2 linked regions of the Homo sapiens genome follow. The protein of the gene in region 1 interacts with the protein of each later gene in a pairwise test. Each region holds a gene or a part of one and is shown in the gene's direction. Other genes may lie near its edges.

Region 1 (3,246 bases):
TCAGAGCTCCTCCATTGCCCCACCTGTGATCCCCACTCCCCATTACAGCACTGGGACCAGATCATCCTGTGTCATAACTGGGAAAGTGCCCATGGAATGGGGGAAGGAACAATTGCCTCTCAAGGCAACATGGTGTCCAGGATGATGGCAGCCACAGCTGCTGCCGCTGCCGCAGGGGCTTTGCTGGCCAGAGCATGATGCCGAGGGGCTCCCAGGGGTGCTGTTTGGGGCCACACTTCTGCCTGGTCCCAGCGCCACAGACCCTGCCTCTTACACTGCGGGAACTTGTGCAGTGTGTGGTCGGACGTGTGCGTCCCGTCCAAGAGTGGCCACAGATCTGTGTACAGGGCTGTGTTCACCCCCTCTGGGGAGTGAGAGAGCCAGGGCGGGAGGGAGGCACCCTGACAGGGCCGTGAGAGGCTGGAGGAGGCCGGCTTAGGGGCCACTCTGACAGTCAGCTCAAGAGGCAGGAAGTGGTGGTGAGGCTGAGGGGGATTGGGAGGGGGACCCTTAGGGCAGAGCCCCTTCCCGGAGCTCTCTCACACATGGAGACCTCGAGCACTCAGCCCAGCTTCATGGGGACTCAGAGAAGGCGGGTCCTGCCCAGGGCTACAAAGCCGATGGAGGCAGAGTTCCCTGAGTCCCCAGCCCTGGGCCCCGGGCTCCCAGGCAGGATCCTCGGGATATGCCTGTGCTGGGGCTGCCCACCCCTCAGGCAGGGCCCAGGCTGCCTCCATAGGTGGTAAATTGCCTTTAGCAAGGTGAGGTTTGCCTCTTGACCTTGTTTTTATTTCATAAGTACTTCTCAGCACTTGCAATGTGCCAGGCACTGTTCTGAACTCTTCCAAATATTAACTCTTTTCACCTAGGGGTGGGTACTACTTTTATCCCGTTTTCCAGGTGAAGAACTAGGCAGGTTAAGAAACTTGTGTAGACTCCCACACAACCAGTAAGTGAGGCTGGGTGGAGTCAGTCTGGCTCCTGCCTCCCCGAAGCTGCCTTTCGTCTCCACCAGTTATTGATGCTTTCACTTACTCATTGCATAAGCAGATCATTTCTTAATTCCTACTACTTACTAGAGTTTTTCTGAGAATTAGTTGTGGGTGGGAGCCGTGATCCAGGAAGGCTTCCTGGAAGAGGTGATGCCGGAAGTGAAAGGACTAAGAGAGCCTGCTTTGGGAGGGGAGAGAGACAGCCTCTGAGGGGAGGAGAGGACATGCAAAGGGCTGGAGGTGGGAGCCGCCAGGCAGCCCACATGGAGCAGAGGCCAGTGTGTGTGTGGAGGCTGGAGATGGGACAGGGCCAGGGTCTGGTCAGCCTGGGGAATGGCTTGGTTTGTATCTGGGGGAGTAGAGAGCCACAAGAGTACTGAGGGTGGAGCAGGTGGGTGATCCAGCTCCTGGCTACCAAAGAGGCAGGCCTGGCAGGAGGGAAGATGTCCTCCCCTTGACCTCCTGCTCCCCAGCATCCCTTCTCTGCCTGGGACATCCCAGGCCCTGGCCAGACAGCTGGGTTCCTGGTGGTTTCTGCACACTCTGAATGAGCCCCAGGAAGTCCCTTCCCACACCTTAGGGGGGCAAGTGTCTGACTCCTGGGCCACGCCCTGGTTGTGTAGATGAAGGACCCACTTGCCAACAGGGCCCGGCAGGGAGATGGAGTGACCTCTGTGCACCTTAGGGTGCAGGGCAGCTCCCAGCAGGAGGAAACGGGCTCCCCAGTGCTCAGGGCAGCAGTTGCCCCAGGCCCACTGGAGGGCCTGGGTACCTGGGAAGGTATGGAGTTGGGGATTAAACCCTATCCACACTCTTTTGCCAACTCATGCCTCCTCTCTCCACAGAGACCATGGTGAGAGCACCAGCAAGCTGGCCAGTGTGACCCGCAGCGTGGACAAGGACCCTGGGATCCCCAGAGCTCTAAGCCTCAGTGGCTCCTCCAGCTCACCCCAAGCCCAGGTGATGGTGCACATGGCAAACCCCAGACAGCCCCTGCCTGCCTCTGGGCTGGCCACAGGAATGCCACAACAGCCCGCAGCATATGCCCTAGGGTGACCACGCAGTGAGGCTGGTGCCCATGCTCCACACTGGGAGGCCAGGCTGACCCCACCAGCCAGTCAGCTACAACTCCACATCAACTCCACATGCGCCCAGCTCGAGACTGATGAGTGGAATCAGCTTCCAGGTGTAGGGACCCCTTGAGGGGCCGAGCTGACATCCAAGGCTGAGGACCCCAGTGGGGAGTGTTCTGTTCCGGCATATCCTGGCCGTAACGATTTTTATAGTTATGGACTACTTGAAACCACTACTGAGGGTAATTTACTAGCTGTGGCCTCCCACTAACTAGCATTCCTTTAAAGAGACTGGGAAATGTTTTAAGCAAATCTAGTTTTGTATAATAAAATAAGAAAATAGCAATAAACTTCTTTTCAGCAACTACAGAAAACTACCTCAGCATCTTCCTCCACAGGATGTACTGCTTCCAAGCAAGGACCCATGGAGGGTTCTGCATCTGTTGTCTGTAAAAGTGCAGTTGAGGGGTATGAAGTAAAACTAAATAATTATTTCTTTTTTTTTTGAGACAGAGTCTCACTCTGTCGCCCAGGTTGGAGTGCAGTGGTGCAATCTCTGCTCACTGCAAGCTCCGCTTCCAGGTTCAAGCGATTCTCCTGCCTCAGCCTCCTGAGTAGCTGGGACTACAGGTGCCCACCACCACGCCCACCTAATTTTTTGTATTTTTAGTAGAGATGGGGTTTCACCGTGTTAGCCAGGATGTCTCGATCTCCTGACCTTGTGATCCACCTGCTTCGGCCTCCCAAAGTGCAGGGATTACAGGCGTGAGCCACCGTGCCCAGCTAAATAATTATTTCTAATACTGAAAAATACAAAGGTAACAGTGGTTGGTTGATGTTAGAGTCAGCAGAGGAGACTTCCCTTTTTTTGTTTGTTTGTTTGTTTGTTTTCAGAGCTAGTTTCTGTTTAACTCTGAAGAAAAAAATCTGGTATTGGTTAGCAAGGAAGGAGTGTACTGAGGCATGACTGACCTGTCTTAGTCATGGGCAGTTCTCCTTGGCCAAGACAGGTCCATTCAGTCAGTCAGTGGGGCTTAAGATTTTATTTCACAGCCATAGCACCCCCACATGGCAGCCTCATGTGGCCTGGGCTTCCTCACAACATGGCAGCCGGCGTTCAAGGTGGAGTTGCAATGTGAGCACCAGGTGGAGGCCATTTTGCCTTTCAGATCCCAGCCTCG
Region 2 (4,404 bases), on another chromosome or scaffold:
TATGGGCTGTGGTGACATTAAAAAGTTAATCCATGTACATCCTGGCTACTATGATTAACTTACTCCTAACAACCTTTGACTACCCCTCCCTGAGGAAGCCCTCCTTAACCCTGAAGTCTGGCTCAGGTATCCTTCCCTTCCTGATGCTGGCCTCTCTAGTGCCCATTACCCACCACAGCTCTAACCCAGCACCCACACTGTGCAGTAGTCACCATTCATGCTTCTCAGGGTCGGGGACCACAGACACGGGCCTCTGTGTCCTGTGTGGAGTGTGTAGGTTGGGCGTCTCCTTGCTGTTCTCCAGGCCAGCGTGTCTATGTGCTCGGGAGGCAGCTCCCTGCCTAAGTGCAGTCTCTCCCCTTCCTGGGCCCTGATGGGTGGGGAGCAGCACCTCCCTCCTGCCTCCTCAACTGAGCCTGAAGCTGGGGTCATAGGATCAGCAGGGGCTCCAGGAGCTGTCCTGTGACTGATCACAGCCACAAAGCTCCTTCTACCCCCGAGAGCCTCCCCACAAGCACACAGGTGAACAGGTCCCCCTAGATAGCACAGACACATACAGCTGCCCGAGACTTGGCCTCAACCGAAGGGGCACTGTCAGAGGTTCTTAATCTCAGGGGCACCTTCAGGATGCCCCTCCCCTCAGGTATCCAGGGCTGAGGCCTTGGATGCTCCCTTCCAGAATGAGGGCCCTGTCCTACCAGGACTCCCAGTTGGTTAGGAACACACCTGTCTTCCTGTCTGCCTCCACTCTGCCACCGAGAGGATACCAGCCATTCCAAGTACCCACAAGCCTTGCCAAGTGACCCTGCTAGCACCCCTCCATCCAGGACACTCCCTATGGGACAGGGCTGACTTATGGGGATCCCTCTCAGCCACATGTCCCATGCCAGTTCCAGTCCCATCAGGCAAGTCAGCCCTCCCTCAGGCACTGATGCATGGCCAGCCAGGACTCACGGCATAATGAAAAGGACCAGGTCATGGGGCGAGACAAGTCTGCCCTGGGATAGCCCTTAGGAGGTCATATGTAAAGGTAGGAGCTGGAGTCCCTGGAGCCCAAGCATGAAAGTGTTTGCATGTTGTGACTGTGTGTGTCTGTGGTGGGGGCAGGGCTTACAAGCCTGGAGAGGCTGGTGGGACCACCAGGAGTCTTCCTGGAAGAGGGAAGTCCTGGGTAGCAGTGAGAGAGAGGCACAGGCTCTCTAGGAGCCAGGGGAGGCAGGCTGAAGAGAGGCCCAGGTGTCCCTGTCTGAGCCTATGCTACTGGACACCCTCCCCCCACCCAGCACCCGCCCCCCTTCAAGGATCCTCCCTGCGGCTCCCTGTGGCCAGCAGCTCTGCAGCACTCGGCTCTGCTCCACTCTGCTCAGCTCCGCTCCAGGAAGGCCACCTCCTCCTCCCCCTCCTCCTCCCGCTGTCACCACTCACCGCTCATAACCTCAAGGGGGTGGGGACCCCAGGGCTGGACACACCCCACCGTGGCCCCAGAGCTCAGCCGGTCGCACGGACGGACAGTTGGAAGCCGGACCCCAGAGCCTGAGGTGGGCAGTGTGCCAGGGTCCCTTGCGGCCTCCTCAAGGTCAGTGCCAGCTGGGGATGCAGCTACTCTGGGGCTCTTGAGACTTGTGGGGCACACCCCAGGCCCTCATCCCAAATCACAGGCCCCAAAAGGGGCTTTACCCCCGGGGCATCTGGGGCAGGCAGGACCAGGGGAAAGGGTATGCCCCCGTGTCCACAGGCCAGCCCTGGTCTGGGGGTCTATCAGGAGAGGCCCCAGGCTGGGGGCCAGCTCCTTGCAGAGGCCTCACTGGGGACACCCCGCACCGGCCATGGGGAGCTAAAATTGGAAAGTGGCGAGTGGGAGGCAGCTGACAAAGCTATTTCACGGGCTCTTCACCATGCTCCGGTTTCAAGCTCCTGCTCCATTAACCTGATCCCCAGGGCCTCTCCACCCCCACCCAACTGATGAGGAGGTGCCTCCACCCTCAGGCCGACAGCACAGCCATCAGGCTGGCAGCCTCTGCTGTGGGCAGGGGCAGTGGTGGTCTTCTCTTACCCCAGATTCCAGAGGGGGGTCACTGAGAAACCCAATCCTGAAGGGAGGCAGGCAGAAGTCTGTCCCAGGTCTGCCATGTGACCTTGACAGGTCCCTGCCCCTATCTGGCCCATGACCCCTCCATCTGTACGAGGAGACCGTCGGCTGCTGGGGGGCCCAGGGGAGATGGCTACAGGGCTGGGGATGAAGATTTAGGGGAGGATCAAGGGTGGGCAAAAGGGCCACATCAGCCACCTCTTGGCCCCGTCAGCCCAAGAGTTGCCTGGACATGTTCCCTGCTTCCTCCCTTTAATTTGGGTCCTATGTCTGTATCCATGGAGTCCTTGGGAAGCCCCTGAGCCAGGCTGAAGCGGGATAGGAAGGGTAAAGGTGCTAGCTGAGCCGTAGTACGGCCCAGCAGTTCTCCAGGGGACAAGCTAGGCCCCCGCTGGAGGGAGTGGTGAGACTCAGCCGGGGCCTGATTCTGGTCAGCACCTTGGACAGCAGCCAGTGCCCTCCCTGGCCCCGCCTGGCCCCGCCTGGCCCCACATCCGCTACTCCTGGGCACCTCCTCAAATAGCACAGCCTCCAGCTGGTGCCCAGGGCCTGAATACACAGAGCGCTGAGAGAGTGGGGCAGTGTGGTCACGGACACAGGCAGGGACTGGGATGTGACAGGCTGGAGCTCAGGGACTTGTTGGGGGAATGGGGGTCAGTGACAGGCTGGAGGCTTAATGCGAGGATGGAGGCTTGGCTCTAGGGGCAGCACCTGGGGTGGTCATGGGATCTCAGGGAGGGGAGTGGGAGTCAGAGAAAGGGTCTTAGAGAAGCTGGGGCTTTGTGAGGAGCTAAGGGAGACTCACTGATCGAGGTGGGGACCCTGCAGGCAGAAACCTGACTGTAGTGATAGAGGTGGGGTTTCTCCGCACGCAGGTCATGGGGGCCTTGGCAGGAGCGGTTTTGGCAGAGGGTGGGGCCGGTGCCTCTGGAAGGTATGAAGATGTAAATGAAGGTGAGGGAGGCAGGCTGCGAGTGAGGGCTCTGCGGGCAAGAGCCTTGATGGGTGGGGTGGGGGCAAGAGCAGCAGCTGGGATGGGGCACTGGTGTTCGGTGGCCTGTGAACTGTGGGGGGCACAGGGGCAGGCAGAGTGATGGTACAAGGTCCCCAAGGGGCTGGAGGGGCAATCTCTCTTCAGAGTGGGTCCCCACTGGGGTGGTGGGACCATGAGGTGGGGCTAGGCTTGGCTGGAGACTGTAATTCCCTCACCCAACCTGTCTCCCCAGCCCTGTCCAGGCTATGGGCATCAAGACAGCATTGCCGGCGGCTGAGCTGGGCCTCTACTCTCTGGTGCTGAGTGGGGCCCTGGCCTATGCTGGCCGGGGCCTCCTTGAGGCTTCACAAGGTAATGGCTGTGCCCCGGGGCAGGTGGACAGGACCCTTCTTCCCCTGGAGGCCTCAGGGTTCCAACCAGCAAAGCCAGAAAGTTACAGGCTCCAGACCTAGGGTACTCCTTCTAGAACACGGCTGGATCTCCCTTTTCAGCCCGGGGTTCCCATCTCAGATAGTCACTGGAGGCTGGGTGGAGCCAGGTTCAGTCACAGGAACACAGAGATGCAGAGACACTGACAGAGAGATGGACACAGAGTCACACACATAGACACACACACACACACACACAGAGGCCTGGACCCAGACACACACACACAGAGACCTAGACCCAGACATACACACACACACATCCCGACACACACACACACACACAGAGACCTAGACCCAGACACACACACAAACACACAGACATATACACACACCCCCCAACACACACACACACACATACACACACAGAGACCTGGACCCAGACACACACACACAGAGAGAGACCTGGATGCAGACACACACACAAACACACAGACATATACACACACACCCCAACACACACACACACACACACACACACAGAGTCCTGGACCCAGACACACACACACAGAGACCTAGACCCAGACATACACACACACACATCCCGACACACACACACACACACAGAGACCTGGACCCCGACACACACACAAACACACAGACATATACACACACACCCCAACACACACACACACACACAGAGTCCTGGACCCAGACACACAGCGAGACCCAGAAAGAAGCAGATGCAGCACCAAAGAGACTCAGACCCGTGCCCCGTTCCTGATGCCCTCGCTCCCCAGGGTGGGGCAGCCTTGTCCACGGGGGAAGGTGGGGCAGGGGATGTGAAGGCCCCTCTCCCTGAGGCCACACTCTGTTCTCAGATGGGGCCCACAGGAAGGCCTTCCGGGAGTCTGTGCGACCTGGCTGGGAGTACATTGGCCGGAAGATGGTAGGTC

What was found.
Region 2: the proteins of SUSD3 (region 1) and HHATL interact in binary tests that used the Homo sapiens proteins (3 or more experiments, as listed by UniProt).

Annotation. Positions count from the first base shown.
Region 1 is NC_000009.12:93,082,700-93,085,945, forward strand, and holds the end of SUSD3 (sushi domain-containing protein 3), read left to right. Parts: intron 1-1,837; coding exon 1,838-2,048; 3' UTR 2,049-2,434; downstream 2,435-3,246. UniProt on the Homo sapiens protein: May play a role in breast tumorigenesis by promoting estrogen-dependent cell proliferation, cell-cell interactions and migration.
Region 2 is NC_000003.12:42,699,751-42,704,154, reverse strand, and holds the start of HHATL (protein-cysteine N-palmitoyltransferase HHAT-like protein), read left to right. Parts: upstream 1-1,356; 5' UTR 1,357-1,576; exon of another isoform or gene 1,577-1,614; intron 1,615-2,633; exon of another isoform or gene 2,634-2,688; intron 2,689-2,964; exon of another isoform or gene 2,965-2,967; coding exon of another isoform or gene 2,968-3,023; exon of another isoform or gene 3,024-3,043; intron 3,044-3,315; coding exon of another isoform or gene 3,316-3,328; coding exon 3,329-3,434; intron 3,435-4,329; coding exon 4,330-4,397; intron 4,398-4,404.